Homo sapiens: one gene and its partners. The protein of the gene in region 2 purifies or fractionates together with the protein of the main gene of each other region. This does not show direct contact. Each region holds a gene or a part of one and is shown on either strand. Other genes may lie near its edges.

What was found.
Region 1: the proteins of VWA3B (region 2) and ARG1 purify together in Homo sapiens (affinity purification with mass spectrometry; one large-scale study listed by BioGRID and IntAct). This does not show direct contact.
Region 3: the proteins of VWA3B (region 2) and INA purify together in Homo sapiens (affinity purification with mass spectrometry; one large-scale study listed by BioGRID and IntAct). This does not show direct contact.
Region 4: the proteins of VWA3B (region 2) and CTSH purify together in Homo sapiens (affinity purification with mass spectrometry; one large-scale study listed by BioGRID and IntAct). This does not show direct contact.
Region 5: the proteins of VWA3B (region 2) and SERPINA12 purify together in Homo sapiens (affinity purification with mass spectrometry; one large-scale study listed by BioGRID and IntAct). This does not show direct contact.

What each region holds. Positions count from the first base shown.
Region 1 is NC_000006.12:131,579,701-131,583,225, forward strand, and holds part of ARG1 (arginase-1), read left to right. Parts: intron 1-1,518; coding exon 1,519-1,678; intron 1,679-2,920; coding exon 2,921-3,015; intron 3,016-3,359; coding exon 3,360-3,464; intron 3,465-3,525. UniProt on the Homo sapiens protein: Key element of the urea cycle converting L-arginine to urea and L-ornithine, which is further metabolized into metabolites proline and polyamides that drive collagen synthesis and bioenergetic pathways critical for cell proliferation, respectively; the urea cycle takes place primarily in the liver and, to a lesser extent, in the kidneys.
Region 2 is NC_000002.12:98,090,165-98,093,689, reverse strand, and holds part of VWA3B (von Willebrand factor A domain-containing protein 3B), read right to left. Parts: intron 630-3,525; 5' UTR 598-629; coding exon 402-597; intron 1-401.
Region 3 is NC_000010.11:103,283,620-103,287,144, forward strand, and holds part of INA (alpha-internexin), read left to right. Parts: intron 1-3,415; coding exon 3,416-3,525. UniProt on the Homo sapiens protein: Class-IV neuronal intermediate filament that is able to self-assemble. It is involved in the morphogenesis of neurons.
Region 4 is NC_000015.10:78,938,529-78,942,053, reverse strand, and holds part of CTSH (pro-cathepsin H isoform a preproprotein), read left to right. Parts: intron 1-2,882; coding exon 2,883-2,914; intron 2,915-3,525. UniProt on the Homo sapiens protein: Important for the overall degradation of proteins in lysosomes.
Region 5 is NC_000014.9:94,492,470-94,495,969, forward strand, and holds part of SERPINA12 (serpin A12 precursor), read right to left. Parts: intron 1-3,500. UniProt on the Homo sapiens protein: Adipokine that modulates insulin action by specifically inhibiting its target protease KLK7 in white adipose tissues.

The DNA of each region.
Region 1 (3,525 bases), on a different chromosome or scaffold from region 2:
ACACACACACACAAGAAAAAAAATGTGGTAATTGTACTTCTCTAGCAACCATTTCAACCAGAATTGAAAATCTGGCACATTTCTTTCATGGCATCTTTTTTTTCCTTGTACATGATGACTTTGTTTAACGTGTGTGTGTGTGTGTATGTGTGTGTGTGAGAGAGAGAGAGAGAGAGACAGATGTCTATGTTGTGTTCTCACTCTACAGTGCAAATTTCCTTGTTGCTTCATGGGATGTGCATAAGCATCATAAGCATCAGTTTTTTAATTGCTGCATGATTTTTCATCAAGGGGTTACATCGCTATATACGTACATATTGCGGCATATTCAGGTTGCATTATAATTTTCACCATTACAAATAATGTGGCAAAGACCATTTTTGTGCATGAGCCTCTTTAAATATTTACTCCCAAGGCCTAGGATAATTTTACCAGAAAGGCCTGATTAGATCTAAAAGTAGAAACACTTCTATGGCTCTTGAGCAGTCAATGACTTCAGGTCTCCTTGGCTTCCTCTTCTAAAGCCAAACTGTCACCAAGGCCTCTGTATCAAAACTGCAATTGGGAAACTGAGGCTCGCTTTCTTTGTTAAGTGGAAATTTTAGGAATGGCACATGGCAAAAGACAAGAAACCTAAAGGGAAAACAAACGTCCACTGAATAATCCATACCTGAACGTTAAGGCATTATTGCTTCCACTTCGAGAATCTAAAAGCTCATGATTCTCTGAATGATACTTAAACATTCACAAATGGGAGAATACAGGCATTGTATAGTACTAGCTTGGTGCAAAAGTAATTGCAGTTTTTAAATGGCAAAACCGCAATACTTTTGCACCAACCTAATAAATCCTAACTTTTAACTTCTGTGCAAGATATCATTTATGTCTTCCATTCCAGCAAAATGTCTGGAGCTTGAAGTATTTGGGATGAACTTTGTTCCTGGTTGAGTGGGTAACTAGATGCATTGAATAGAATGAGTGAACACACGCCATACGCTGGCTGAAGAACTTGAGTAAGAACATGTAAGAACTTCTGAGTGATGCTCTCAAATTATAAAAGCTGGATTTTAAGAAAAATTGAAAGACTTTGTCATAATTCACTTGAGAGAATTAAGTATTTACCAAGAGAGATGAGTGTACAGAAAATGATCCAAATTTAACTCTGAGAATTGAACAGTGTCTCATGCTAAGGAATTTCTTGTGTGGCTAGTATTTTTATACTCATTTATTTTTTTGGCTACGCTCTAATCGTGGTTTTCTTACAAGGTGGATTTTGGGAAAAAAAATCACAGTTTTTTTAGTAATGCAATCGATGTAAATATAACTAGTTAGTGAGCATTAAGTGTAAGTTATGCTTTCTCTATTGTTTTAACTAATTGGCATCTCCAATTCAGAACCTATCAGAAATATCAGACACTGTGACTCAAAGGAAAACCAAGTGGGAGCATTGAGTGAATAATATGATGTATGTAGTGACACTGCAAACCTGATGTTCACACAAAATTTTTTCCCCAAAAGTTTGGCAATTGGAAGCATCTCTGGCCATGCCAGGGTCCACCCTGATCTTGGAGTCATCTGGGTGGATGCTCACACTGATATCAACACTCCACTGACAACCACAAGTGGAAACTTGCATGGACAACCTGTATCTTTCCTCCTGAAGGAACTAAAAGGAAAGGTAAAAGACTGGTTGGTACTCTAGTGCAATAGAATACTTTTTAGTAGACATTCAGGAGGTGGAAGGGAAATGAGAAACTCCATGTTATCTTATTCTTGGTGTAATCTCAAATCATTTTCTCTGCAGCCAATAAGCAAAGGGTTGGTTGATAAAAGGCAGTGAGGCTCTCTATCTCTGCCTTGCAAACTGACTTAATATATATTTTCTCTGCTAATTCTTAAACTATCCTTTTAGTAGGTGGGGCAGAGAGTAATCATTTATAAACAGGTCAGTGGAGGTTCAGAGGTTAACCAACTTGCCCAAGATATATGCCAAGCCTATAGTGAAGCAAGGGCTAGCACCAGGTCTCCTCATTCCTTCCTCTTTCCACTACATGCCACACAGTTCTGCATTCTTACTGAGTAGTCCTTCTATATCATAGAGGCTTTTCAAAAAAGAAATTTTAAAATTTCAGATATAATGGTTTATGAACTAATGTATTTACTGGGAGAAGCACCTATCTAAATCATAAGAGAAAGAACTATCTCCCTGCTCCCTAGAAACTCCTTTTCTAAAAGATGGAAAATAAAATGGCAGATTAAGATTTAATATTACAGCTTATAACTTTGTTGATATGCCATAGTTTGTTGATATGCCATAGTATATCAATAAAAAGTTTTTATTGATACAATTATAATATTTGGTCCTTATGATGATACAAGAGGTTAAAACCTCCTTATGTTAAATGCTCAGAAATAATGTCTTTTGAACTAATGACCAAGGGATGGGTTTATAAACTTGCAAAGTATCTGCCTAGTACATGGGAAAAACTAAACGTCCTGGAGGACAAAGCAGATATCATCATATTATCACATTAAGAATAACCAAAGGACAGGCCACAAATTTCCCTCAGCTGCTCTAGGCCATCCTCTGGATTAAGGACTTACTGAGAAAGGGAAGTAAAGAAGGAAGCTACCAAAGTAATGGGAGCACAATCGTTTCTTTATAGAGGAGCCCTGGGAAAGAAGGGCCCAGCAGGACTGGGGCACAAAGTAGGTAAATGCCAACTGGTTCAAGGCAAAGTCAAAGCAATCAAGGGGAGGCACACATCCTCTTCTTAATTGTGTATTATTTTTACATGATTTCTTCTGTATTTATATTCTAAATATAAGATATACGCAATCCAATATGTGTCTTTACCTTTGAATGTAGGATTTGTTCAAGAGAATCATACATAACCAAGTGAAAACATTGTAATTTTAGATTCCCGATGTGCCAGGATTCTCCTGGGTGACTCCCTGTATATCTGCCAAGGATATTGTGTATATTGGCTTGAGAGACGTGGACCCTGGGGAACAGTAAGCTTATTCCTTGATGTGATTTGCCTCCATTTTTGTCCCTTTGTGTGCTAGATATGCTTTACTGACCAACTCTATGAGAGAAAATTAAACATCAAGACACACACACACACACATGCCCACACACATATATTTATATACATGTACATACATATGTATGTATCCAGGCAATTAAATCTCAATTGACTTGCTGTTAAAAATAAATACAAATAAAACTATATTGAGTTAGGTTCATAGAACCTAAATGTTTTATATATTTTACTATATTTATATTTCCCTTAAAAGGAGACAGGCGGGCACAGTCAGCCTTATTAATTATAATTATCTTAATTTCTCTTTTATAGCTACATTTTGAAAACTCTAGGCATTAAATACTTTTCAATGACTGAAGTGGACAGACTAGGAATTGGCAAGGTGATGGAAGAAACACTCAGCTATCTACTAGGAAGGTAGGATTCTTTTGTGTGTGCACACATGTGTGTGCAACAGAAAAGGTTGCTACTGACAACC
Region 2 (3,525 bases):
ATTCTTGAAAAACACAGAAAGAGTGGGTAAGTGTTCTCACCACAAAAAATGACTATATGAGGCAATGCATTTGTTAATTAGCTAGATACAGCCATTCACAATGTATACATTCTTCAAAACATCATGTTGTACATGATAAATACATACAGTTTTATCTGTCAATTTAAAAAGTAAAAAAGAAAGGATGAAATTAAGCATTATTTAATACATGGATTGACAATTGTACGTCTACTTAATACACATATATTGGGGGCACACGTGCAAGCATTTTCTACTGATAGGGATATAAGATCAAAGCAAGCTCAGAGACCTGTGGTTTTTGAGGGGCCTTCAGAGCTGATGCAGCCACCTCCACCTCAAAGGCTAAATGGCAGCATGCTGGTTGTTTGTGAGTACTGTACCTTCACAATGTGGGAATCCGATCTGTGACAAAATCTGTTTCAAGGTCAATTTGTTGCTCTTAAGCCCATGCAGTTGAAGCCATTTCTCAGATGAAATGAGACTCTGCTCAGCCAAGTCTGTTTTGGTGTTAATCCATCCCTCTTGCCTCTGCAGCTGCTGCTCAGAGATGGTAGAAGATGGGCCTGATTTCTCCATCTCTGAATCAAGATCTAAGTCACAGCAAACTCCTGTAAGGGCAATCATAAACTCAGACTTCCTAAAAACTTGGAAATCATCTAACGTCAACAGGGGACTGGCTTAACATAAATTATAGTACACCCATGAAGTGGAATGCTATTTATCAATTAAAATTATACATGTATATTTGGTGGAAAAGAGGACAGTCACATGAATTGCTAAGAGGTATCCATAAAGTTCAATATTCAACTATATATATATATATATATATATATATATATATATATATATATACAAAAACATCTAGAAAGATATTCCGTAACAGGTTTAGAGTAGTTTTCTCTGTGTGGTGGTAGTATGTGTGGTTTTTGCCTTTTCTATATTGTTTAAATTTTTGCATTATTTGAATATTTCTAAAATGGGGTTTACTTTGTTGTTGTTGTTGTTGTTTTTTGTTCATTTGTTTTTGAGAAGGAGTCTCGCTCTGTTGCCCAGGCTGGAGTGCAGTGGCACAATCTAGGCTCACTGCAACCTCCACCTCCCAGGTTCAAGCAATTCTGCTGCCTCAGCCTCCTGAGTAGCTGGGATTACAGGCGCGTGCCACCATGCCCAGCTAATTTTTGTATTGTTAGTGGAAATGGGGTTTCACCATGTTGGTCAGGCTGGTCTCGAACTGCTGACCTCGTGATCCGCCCGCCTTGGCCTCCCAAAGTGTTGGGATTACAGGCGTGAGCCACTGCGCCCAGCTGGAATTTACTTTTATAATCAGAAAACTGCAAAGCTCTTCCATTTTGGAAAAAAATAAACACTAGCCCCAGAACCTTCACTACACATCTGTATTCCAATAACAATCACACCTGACATTTTGTGCCCAATGAGGATGAGAAGGATAAAACTCTGACAGGTTTTTACCTGTCGAACAGGTGTAGTGGCTAATTGGGAGCTGGTGGCGGTTGGGAACCAGACCACAGCTCAGCCCAGCTGGAATACATGTATCCACTTTCTGAATGTTTTATTGTCTGGGGCTTTGCTCTACAATTGGACTTAAGCATTCTGGCCCATGTAGCCATCTGTTCTGGGATCAACTGGACCCAAGGCCATATGCAACATATTAAACTTAGCTAGACCTGCCTAAATATAGCTAGTGTATGCAAGAGGAAAGGATGGGGCCAAACTATAATGCAATCTTAACCCGCTCACCACAAATGGGCAGGGCCTGGTGACCTGGAGGAAGTGTAGAAAGTTCTGCTTACTTCTGTATCCAGAATTCACAATGCATGTAAACTGATACCCTGAATTGTAAAACTTTTTAACAATGAAAATAGGTTCTTTCCCTATTTCTAAAACTTTAACTGTATTTCCTAAAAGTTTCACTGTCATGACATGGAAATTCAGTCAAACACAAAAATCAGTTGGACCAAGTCAGGGAGGTTTTATAAAAAGGAGTTAGAAGTATTATCATTAGCAAGCACTTATTTAACATCATGTTATGTGCAATTTACATTTAATCCTTATAACCTCATGAGGTAGGTACTACTCTTATTTTCATTTTACAAATGAGGAAACCAAGACAGAGAGGGGTTAATTAACTTGTCCACAATCTTACAACTGGTAAGGGGTGGAGTTAAGATTCTAAACCAGGCCATTCAGCTCCAGGATCTGTGTTCTGTGATCTTTAGTGTAATAGAAGCAATGCAACAACTTCCATTTGTTGGTCCTTTTATACGCACTAGCTCACAGCTTCTTCATACCATATCAGTTACTCATTATTAACACGCCACTTACATGTGAGGAATCGCAAGCTTCGAGGATTTAAAGAACTTGCTCACAGGTTCTGCCACAGCCAGTGAGAAAAGCAGGAGTCAAAGCCATTTCTTAACCACTCTGCTATCTTTACAATTAACCTCCTCCAGCCAGGTCTTATGGGACAAGGCAATCTGCATTCCAGTAGGACTGCATTCTAGTAGGGCCCTAGGTCCTCATCCGGAACGCTAATCTTTATTCTCAGAGCTCAGACTCAATAAGCTTCTTGGCTTATCACTCTCAAACTTTTAAAGATAATGAGGCTGGGTGCAGTGGCTCATGCCTGTAATCCCAGCACGTTGAGAAGATCGCTTGAGCCCAGGAGTTCGAGACTACCCTGACCAACATAGTGGAGGACTCATCTCTACTAATTTTTTTTTTTTAATTAGCCAGGCATGGTGGTGCATGCCTGTAGTCCCAGCTACTCGAGAGGCTGCAGCAGGAGGATTGCTTGAGCCCAGGAGTTCGAGGTTGCAGTGAGCTCTAATTGCACCACTGCACTCCAGCCTGGGCAACAGAGCAAGAACTTGTCTTTAGCGAGACTCAGTCTCAAAAAAAAAAAAAGATAATAATTTCCATTTCAAGGTTTATGTGAATTTGTATTGTCCACATATGTTGAGTTGCAAAGGTATACAAATTATTATTGGTGAAGATCTGGCTTTCTTTCTACAAAGGCTCAATTTGAGGAGAATATTGCAATATTACTTGGAGAGCATCACGTAGGAGTGGAAAAGTTTAGAATCAAAACTCAGTATAAGCCCATTCTGCCACTTTAAGGTGATTCCACCTCTCTAGGATAGTAATACCACCTGCACACCCTAACTCCCAGGGCTATTCAAGGAACAACTGTGCTGATGTATAAGTTATGCGTGGATAAGCACTTTATATGTTGGAAACAGCTATGTGCAAATAAATGATCTAAAAGTCATGGTTCTTTAGTCATTGTATTTTGTTTCATGAGACCCACTTTCATCCCAAGCACTTTTTATCCCCAAGTCTCCAATCATACTGAGCTAGAAAGTTTAGAATCACAGAACATGAAAACAAGGGCAGACTAATATGCCTCAACTTGTTTTTGAGGATCTATCCACAAAGACTGGAGCTGAAAGAAAGTCTTTTAAATTTGGTCAGTTGTTCCAAGAA
Region 3 (3,525 bases), on a different chromosome or scaffold from region 2:
TTGTACCCCCTGATGTCTCAGCCCTACCTTTCACCATTGCTTTATCATTCTCACACAAGGGGAGTTTCAAGGGCCTGTCAACACTTACTTTCTTGAGGTTTCTGATATGTTTATCTGCATCACTGTTTCTTTTTTTTTTTTTTTTTTTGAGATGGAGTTTTGCTCTTGTTGCCCAGGCTGGAGTGCAATGGCACGATCTCAGCTCACTGCAACCTCTGCCTCCCAGGTTCAAGTGATTCTCCTACCTCAGCCTCCAGAGTAGCTGGGATTACAGGCACACGCCACCACGCCCAGCTAATTTTTGTATTTTTAGTAGAGACCATAGTTTCACCATGTTGGCCAGCATAGTCTCAGTCTCTTGATTGACCTGAACTCCTGACCTCAGGTGATCCACCCGCCTCAGCCTCCCAAAGTGCTGGGATTACAGGCATGAGCCACCATGCCCGGCCCTGCATGACTGTTTCTTAAAAATAACCCCCAATCATTGTGTCTTTTTTTTTTTTTTTAAGACGGGGTCTTGCTGTGTCGCCCAGGCTGGAGCACAGTGGCGCCATCATAGCTCACTTCAACCTCCGCCTACCGGGCTCGAGCAATTCTCTCAGCTCAGCCTCAAGTGATTCGCCTGCCTCAGCTACCCAAAGTGCTGGGATGCCCTAGAGATGTTTTCTTGTTATCGCAACTGGGAGAGGGAAGTATGTGCTTCTGGCATCTAGCCAGGGATGTTACTAAATATCCCGCATTTCACAATAACAAATAATTAGCCAGCCTAAAACATCAACACTGCCAAAGTTGTAAAACTCTGTTATAGAGGAAAGCAACAGAAAATAAACTAGTATAAACCAGTAAATTGCCGGGGCCGGACACTGTGACTCATGCCTGTTATCCCAGCACTTTGGGAGGCTGAGGCGGGCGGATCACGAGGTTAGGAGTTCAAGACCAGCCTGGCCAACATGGTGAAACCCCATCTCTACTAAAAATACAAAAATTAGCCAGGTGTGGTGGTGCACACCTGTAATCCCAGCTACTCAGGAGGCTGAGGCAGGAGAATTACTTGAACCCAGGTGGTGGAGGTTGCAGTGAGCTGAGATTGCGCCACTGCACTCCAGCCTGGGTAACAGAGCAAGACTCCATCTCGGAAAAAAAAAAAAAGAAGAAGATAATTTCATATAATGGTAAGAGCTGAGAGCAGGGTGGCTGCATTCAACTGAGTGCTTTTTTTCTAATTTGCACAAGGTTCCTGCATGGGCCAGTAGCTGCTCTGGCTTAAGGTAAAATAAAGTGCTGGGTTGGTCGAGGATGGATACTTAAATTGGATGCAAATGAAGACCTGTCTGAGGAGAGGACATTATATTTTATTTTATTTTATTTTATTTTATTTTTTGAGATGGAGTTTCATTCTTGTTGTCCAGGCTGGAGTGCAATGGCACGATCTCGGCTCACTGCAACCTCCGCCTCCCAGATTCAAACAATTCTCCTGCTTCAGCCTCCCTAGTAGCTGGGATTATAGGCATGCACCACCACGCCCGGCTAATTTTTGTATTTTTAGTAGAGACAGAGTTTCTCCATATTGGTCTGGCTGGTCTCGAACTCCCAACCCCAGGTGATCCTCCCGCCTCAGCCTCCCAAAGTGCTGGGATTACAGGCATGAGCCATCGTGCCTGGCAGGAGAGGACATTTGAACTGAATCTTTTTTGAGACAGAGTTTTGCTCTTGTTGCCCAAGCTGGAGTGCGGTGGTACGATCTCAGCTCACTGCAACCTCTGCCTTCCAGATTCAAGCGATTCTCCTGCCTCAGCCTCCCAAGTAGGTGGGATTACAGGCGCTTGCCACTGCACACAGCTAATTTTTGTACTTTTAGTAGAGACGGGGTTTCTCCTTGTTGGTCTGGCTGGTCTCGAACTCCCGACTCCAGGTGATCCTCCTACCTCAGCCTCCCAAAGTGCTGGGATTACAGGCATGAGCCATCATGCCTGGCAGGAGAGGACATTTGAACTGAATCTTTTTTTTTTTTTTTTTGAGATGGAGTTTCGCTCTTGTTGCCCAGCTGGAATGCAGTGGCGCGATCTCGTCTCACTGCAACCTCCCCCTCCTGGGTTCAAGCGATTCTCCTGCCTCAGCCTCCCAAGTAGCTGGGATTACAGGTGCATGCCACTGCACCCAGCTAATTTTTGTATTTTTAGTAGAGACGGAGTTTTGCCATGTTAGCCAGGCTAGTCTTGAACTCCTGATCTCAGGTGATCTGCCTGCCTCAGCCTCCCAAAGTGCTAGGATTACAGGTGTGAGCCACCACACCCGGGTGAACTGAATCTTCTATGACAAGGAGTCGGCCATGTAAAGACCGGCATTTTAGATAGAGGAAATAACAAGCCTGAAGGGCCTGGGACAGCAATGAACTTGGTATAGTTAAGGAGTAAAAGAAAAGACCAGGCTGGGCATGGTGGCTCATACATGTAATCTAAGCACTTTAGGAGGTAAAGGCAGGAGTGTCTCTTGAGGCCAGGAGTTCAAGACCAGCCTGGACAACATAATGAGACCTCATCTTTACAAAACAAAAATCTTTTTTAACTAGCCAGGCATGGTAGTGTACACCTGTTAGTCCCAACTGCTTGGGAGGCTGAGACAGGAAGATCGCTTGAGCCCAGGAATTTTGAGGCTGCAGTGAGCTGTGATCACACCACTGTACTCCAGCCTAGGCAACAGAGCAAGACCTTGTCTCAAAAAAAAAAAAAAAAAAAAAAAAAGAATTCCTTCTGGCTGCTCAAGGACTATAAATATATAAATATAAAGCGATTTCTCTTCCATGCCTCGGTGTTTTAAAAATTCTGTGGAGTATTTCTGCTTTCTCCTTACCTATAATGTAAAATGCTCTCAGTAAAGTGACTGATTAGCAGGCTTCTAGGAAATCATCAAAATGAATGGAGGCAGAGAGGTCTTCCTGGAAAGCTCTCTGTGCTTTCCACATTCGGAATTTTCTGAATCTAAGCTGCTAACCTGAGGCTTTGGGTTTTGGAAAGCACATGCTACAACAGAGTTATTTAGCAGCAACACAACAAGCAAGGGAGGGATGGTAAGTGTAAAAAAAAAAAAAATCATCTCCATGTTCAGTTCAGAACTATATGCCGTGTGGCTATCCTGAAAAGGGCAGGTGTTCACTTGCCCTCTGGGTAAAAGTTCCCAGTCCTCACCATGAGTCCAAATCTCCTGGGGACCTTTATGAAAAAAATGCAAATGCTGGGACCCCACCCCAGAACCAGTGAATCTGGATCTGGACTCAGGGACAGACCTGGATATAAGCAAGTTATAAGTTCATTAGATGATTTTAATGTGTAGTCAGGGCTGGGAATCCTTGCCTTCTGGAAATCTTGAGGAATTTCAGCTGGTTTGGCCTAACTATTTTGGATATGTTACTTTTCAGGATAGCATTGGGCAGCTGGAGAATGATCTGAGGAACACCAAGAGTGAGATGGCACGCCACCTTCGGGAATACCAGGACTTGCTCAATGTCAAAATGGCTCTTGACATTGA
Region 4 (3,525 bases), on a different chromosome or scaffold from region 2:
CAAAAATAAGACCAGAATTAATGCTGAACCTTTTCTCAACCAAACAATATTCACTCATGAAAATATAAATCCATTGCGGGGGATGGGCAGTAGAGTACTGTTTATCACATTAAGAGATGCATTTCTGATACAATTTTACTTTTGATGTTTAACAATTACTTTTCATAATGTATAATACATTTGAAATGTTTTAATCAGTTGGGACACTAATAATAATTATGATTACTCAATCCAGAATAAATTTTTTTTTTTTTTTTTGAGACGGAGTCTCATTCTGTCGCCCAGGCTGGAGTGCAGTGGCGTGATCTCGGCTCACTGCAAGCCCCGCCTCCCGGGTTCACGCCATTCTCCTGCCTCAGCCTCCTGAGTAGCTGGGACTGCAGGCGCCCGCCACCACGCCCGGCTAATTTGTTTTTTGTATTTTTAGTAGAGTTGGGGTTTCACCGTGTTAGCCAGGATGGTCTCGATCTTCTGAACTCGTGATCCGCCCGTCTCAGCCTCTCAAAGTGCTGGGATTACAGGCATGAGCCACCGCGCCCAGCTCCAGAATAAATTTTTATAATATTCACAGATGTATGGGTCACAGGTAGTAAAAACATTTAATTTTTTTTTTTTTTTTTTTTTTTTTTTTAGACAGAGTCTCGCTTTGTCGCCCAGGCTGGAGTGCAGTGGCACGATCTTGGCTACTGCAACCTCTGCCTCCCAGGTTCAAGCAATTCTTCTGCCTCAGCCTCCCAAGTAGCTGGGACTACAGGTGCATGCCACCACGTCTGGCTTATTTTTGTATTTTTAGTAGAGATGAGGTTTCACCATGTTGGCCAGGCTGGTCTCAAACTCCTGACCTCATGATCCACCTGCCTCAGCCTCCCAAAGTGCTGGGATTACAGGCATGAGCCACGGCGCCCAGCCAAAATAAATAATTTAAATTTAAACTTTTTGTTGTTGTTGCAGAAAAGAATGTGAAGGTGATCAAGCATAAAAATGTATGTTCCCTTAGGATAAAATTCTGCCAGGTGGGGATGGAGATAGGTGTTCAACAAGAAAAAGAAACTCTGTATAATATCTGACTCTTTTTTGTTTTGTTTTCTTTATTTGAGATGGAGTTTCGCTCTTGTCACCCAGGCTGGGGTGCAGTGGCACAATCTCGGCTCACAGCAGCCTCCGCCTCTCAGGTTCAAGCGATCCTCCTGCCTCAGCCTCCTGAGTAGCTGGGATTACAGGCGCCTGCCACCATGCCCAGCTAATTTTTGTATTTTTAGTGGAGCTGGGGTTTTGCCATGTTGGCCAAGTTGGTCATGAGCTCCTGACCTCAGGTGATCTGCCCACCTTGGCCTCCCAAAGTGCTGGGATTACAGGCGTGAGCCACCACACCCCGCCTAAATACCTGACTCTTATAGAAAAGTTTGTTCATGTTACTGATGGTGGATATCAAATCATCATGGTATTTAGATTCCACTGGCTAGCTTTAAAAGAATGATATAACAATCTTATTTTTAGAGATTTTTTTTTTTTTTTTGAGACAAGGTCTCACTCCTGTCACCCAGGCAGGAATGCAGTGGCGCTATCATAGCTCATTGCAGCCTCAACCTCCCAGGCTCAAGTGATTCTCCCGTCTAATTTTTTTTATTTTTTTGTAGAGACGAGGTCTCACTTTGTTGCCCAGACTGGTCCCAAACTCCTAGGCTCAAGGGATTCGCCTGTGTCAGCCTCCCAAAGTACTGAGATTATAGGCTTGGGCCACACTGCCAGGTGTTATTTTTAAATCTCAATATTTATAAGTTGGAATATGTCTTTGGAGGTATTCAAATTTAAAATGAAATGTTTAGATAAGAACATACATGGGGAAATACGGCAGGAATCCAAAAACAAATGGCTGGCCTGCTTTTGTAAAATATTTTGTCTTGTTTGTTTTATTATGTTTTTGATAATATCTGTACATATTTGGGGGTACATGTGAGGTTTCGTTTTTGTGAAGTCTTGCGGGAACGCAGTCCTACCCATTAATGTTCACAGTCTCTGTGGCTGTCTCTGAGCCGCAGGGGCAGAGTTGAGTAGTTGTGGCAGAAACCATATAGATGGCAAAGCCTGAAATATTTACTACCTGTCCCCATAAGGAAAAACAGTGCTTGCCCTTGGAATAGATAGGTTTGTTTTTTGTTGTTGTTGTTTTTGAGACGGAGTCTCTCTCTGTCGCCCAGGCTGGAGTGCAGTGGCACGATCTCGGCTCACTGCAACCTCCGCCTCCCGGGTTCAAGCGATTCTCCTCAGCCTCCCGAGTAGCTGGGATTACAGGCACACACCACCATACCCAGCTGATTTTTATATTTTTGTGGAGACAGGGTTTCGCCATGTTGGCCAAGCTGGTCTTGAACCCCTGACCTCAGGCAATCGGCCCACCTCGGCCTCCCAAAGTGCTGGGATTACAGGCATGAGCCACCGCGCCCAGCTGGAGTAGATAGCTTTTTAAATTAACTTCTTACCGAAATATAACTTCATACAGAAAGGGGCACAAATCATTGAGTATGCATTTCCACGAATTTTCTCAATCTAAACACACTCAGTTAACCAGCGCCCAGTTGAAGAAACAGGATATGAGCAGCATCCCGGAAGTGCTTTCTGCACCCCGACCCAGTAGGCATAACCACCATCCTGACTTTCAACACCATTGACTAATAGTATATACTTTTTCACATTAATTTGGGGTACAAAACCAGGAAGAGTCGGAGTTTCTTTTTGCATTCTGCATTATATAACACCATTTTTGGTGTTTTAAATTTAGTCCAGTTTTCGAAAATGCAAATCAGTTCTAAAGTGCCCTACTTTGCTATAGACTCAACATTACTGTGATGCGCCCAGACCTAATTTTTTTTTTCTTTTTACAGAGAAGTTTCACTTCAAGTCATGGATGTCTAAGGTCAGTGCCCAACTTCTTCTTTTTGAAGTTTTTCATTTCACAAAGTTTCCTGTTATCAAACCAAACTGTCCCAGATTTGAGACAATGAAAAAGGGAATTTCCAACTTTGCCTAGTGGGGTCTTTCCAGAAGTTGAACTGGCCAAACACTGGGAAAGATGCAGTTAAGTAAATTCCTTCCAAATAGTGGTCCCAAGTGATTAACTTGGCTGACAGCCTTCCAAGCCCTGGGATTCATTTCTGTATTTTGTTTTCAAAGCACATTGTGGAGAATGTAAATTAGTACAACCATTGTAAAAAAAACAGTATGGAGGTTCCATCAAAAACTCAAAACAAAACTACCATATGACCCAGCAAGCCTACTACTGAGTATATATCCAAAAGAAAGGAAATTAGTATATTGGAGGGATATCTGCACCCTCATGTTTATTGCAGAACTAGTCACAATAGCCAAGATATGGAATCAACCTAAGTGCCTATCAATGGGTAAAGCAAATGTGGTGTATGTACACAATGGAATATTATTCAGCCATAACAAAGAATGAAATTCTGTCATTTGCAGCAACATGGATGGAACTGGAGGTCATTATGTTTAGTGAAATAAGCCAAGCAT
Region 5 (3,500 bases), on a different chromosome or scaffold from region 2:
AGAAGCCACTTCTATGAGCTGTAAGTTTTCCCTGGCCCCCTGCGAGGTTTCATGATAGGAAAGATAAGGGCATCTTTGTATCTGATGGAAATGATTCAGAAGAGAGAAAAACATATGCTGATGTAGGAAAGTGAGGAGAGGATTTCTAGGGTGATGTTCCTGAGTAGCAGGGGGCCGTAGGTCCAGTGCGTAAATGAGGAGATCGGCTTTAGTTTGTGCCAACGTGGGAAGGCACTAAGTGCAGCTGTGCTGACAGGTGAGTGCATATACCAATATGTACGGAAATGTGTGGGGGGCACCCAGGCTGGGAGTGGACCCTCGACACTTCTGAACAGGACAATGGCTATTTCAAAGCCACCAGCAGTTTTCTGCTCCTAAAGGTGGACCCTGGGAAACAGAGCTTTTCCTCTGGGGAAATCAGAGCAGCACCTGGCCTCAAATTATGCAAATCCAAAGCAGGTGTCTGCCTCCTGCACAGAGGCCAGGTGGAAGTCATCCGAAGCCTAAATTCTGACATGTTCTACACACATGTAAGTTGGTGTGTGTCTGTTGACTTGGTTACTTCTTTTAGGGAAAAGGTGATTTTTCTGCTCAGTGTCTTCTAGGCCCTCCAGTCTGGAGAGGACTGCAGAAAGAATGCATAGGGATAGCCCGTCCACCTCTGCTCTCCCATAGCGGGCCACTGAGCTCTCTGGACTAGGCTTCCCACCTGTAGATCAAAGCAACTTGACCACTTATCTCCCAGAAATAATGAGCTCAGAAGGTAGGAATGTTTGTTCCTATCATGTTCTAATGAAATGTAATTCCCTGGGGACGGTGAGCAAGCCCCCTGTCCTGCAAGAGGATTTGGAGTTTCTTCTCGGGAAGGTGGACAATACCCTGTCTGTCATTCCAAGGCCAGAAGTGACTGGGTAGGCAAGACATCCCTGGGGTGAGAGGAACCTTCCTTTCTATGGCCCTCCTGGTGGGGAGGCCTGGCCTCAAGTCAAGGAGATGCGGAAAGCAGTCCCAGAGGGATGGGGGAGGCAGACCAGGCACTAGAAAAATGGAAGGAGGTGCCCTGGAAGAGATGCTGAGAGCAGCCTACACTTGGACTTCACAAGACGCCACTGAGAGCAGCCTGCACTTTACACCTGGACTCCACAAGACACCACTGAGAGCAGCCTACACTCTACACTTGGACTTCACGAGACGCCACTGAGAGCAGCTTACACTTGGACTTCACAAGACGCCGCTTCTGTGCGCTGTAAGTTATCCTGGGTCCCTGTGAGGAGCTTTGGTTCTGTTATTCCCAAACCTCCAGGAAGTCTGGCACTAGCCTACAGAAAATCTCAAAGGTTCTATTTCACTCTTGTGTAAAGGTGCAAAAGGAGATGAAGCCTGAAGCCAGAGAGATGGTGGCAGTGCCCAGGGAACATCTGTGTGGTTGGTGGTGGCCTGATGGTGGTCACAGCACCAGGGGCTGCAGAGGGCCTCAGTGAGGGGAATGTGAAGCCCCCAGTGTAGCACCTGAGCTGTAGCCCCATGGAGAAATTGTCAGACATGGCTTGGAGATAGGGGTGGAGTGCACTCAGGACAGTGAGTTCCAGCAAATCAACTGCAGAGTCTCAAGCCACTGTAATTTGAGTCCTACGGGAAATGTCATATTCTGGAGTCCATGTCTCACAAAGCCAGACTTCTGGATGAAGTGGGGTGGAAGACCTGGCATCCCTCCCATTTCTTACCTTCTCTTCATGTTCTACACCCCCCAGTTCCCTAGGGAGATCTCTCAAGACATCTCTGTGAACTCTAAAAATCTGTAGAGTGCAGGCTGAAACACGTCAGTCCCTTTGGGGATGTCCCCATGTTGAGACAACATGGGGGAACCCGTGGGTGGTAACTGAACTGAACTGATGTGACTCCTTTCACACGGAACATGGCTTGGAGGCATTGCAGAATGCATCTCTGATATCTAGAGTGAGCTGCAGGCTTGAGAAAGGAAAATTCTGGTTCTGAATGCTTTCAATAAAGTCACATTTATGGAAGGGGGGAGCTAAGTGACAGGGCATTCCAAGAGCGCTGCCATCCCTCGAGATCTGCACAGCCTCACCCGCCCCTCCCACTGGGAACATCTTCTGCAGTGGAAGAGCAGCCACCCTAGGGCTTCAACCTGAGGGTAAGAGGGTCAGATTTGCAGGACACCTGTCATTCAATAAACCAGAAGTTCAAAAGTTCTGCTGAGAACCTTGGAGCTCTGCCTCTTTAGACAATGGGAAGGAAAGAGGAATTTGCATTTGGATATGTTTTCTGTGGGGCAATGCTGTGCTAAGGCACATTTAATTCTCTCAAGAGTACTGTGGTGTTGGCGATATTATGGCCACACACCATAGATGAGAAGACCAGGTCTCAGCTAAAGGTTGTAACCTGGACCCCTCCTTTTGTTTCAGTGGCCAGACTCTGCCAACCCTTCCACCTCCCTGGTTCCCAGTGGGAAGGGCAGGTGAGACTATGCAGATCTCAAGGGATGGCAACGCTCTTGGGATGCTCTGCTACTTGGCTCCTCCATCCCAGTACCATGACTTAATTGGAAGCATTCGGAATCAGAATTTCCCTTTCTTTTTTTTTTTTTTTTTTTTTTGAGATGGAGTCTCGCTCTGTCGCCCAGGCTGGAGTGCAGTGGCGGGATCTCGGCTCACTGCAAGCTCCGCCTCCCGGGTTCATGCCATTCTCCTGCCTCAGCCTCCCAAGTAGCTGGGACTACAGGCGCCCGCCACTACGCCCGGCTAATTTTTTGTATTTTTAGTAGAGACAGGGTTTCACCGTTTTAGCCGGGATGGTCTCGATCTCCTGACCTCGTGATCCGCCCGCCTCGGCCTCCCAAAGTGCTGGGATTACAGGCGTGAGCCACCGCGCCCGGCCAGAATTTCCCTTTCTTAAGTCTGCAGCTCACTCTAGATATAAGAGATGCATTCTGGAATGCCTCCAAGACAGTGTTCTGCATGAAAAGAGTTGCATCAGTTCAGTTACCACCCATGGGTTACTAAGCTCAGTCCTAGCATCATCTGTACCTCTCTTGGTACCGTCCTTGGTGCCTGACAGGACGTTAGGTGTGGCAGAGGTTCTTAGTAAATACCTTTATGGAGATGCATGGGGAATGATGACAGGGACAAGGTGGAAGAGGGAAAGAGAACAGAGAAGAGGACATCTGACACCTGTCCAAGTGGAAACTGCCCACTCTGCTACATCCCCTTCACTGCTCTGGCTACTAGAGGCCACTAGCCCAGCCACTTTCAAGGCACTATGTATGTCCACGCTGACACTAAGTCCCCAAGACTTAAACCCAACACCAACTCTTACCTTTTCCCCCAAAATCTATCAGTAAGCAAGTGCCTGGGAGGAATTCTGTAGGCTTAGCATTAATCTAATATCAGTTTATGTTTTAAAAAGAAAAATATTTACTCTCTTTTATTCTTCAACTATTATTTGTATAACTTACTTTGGATACTTCATGGGTTTTGTTG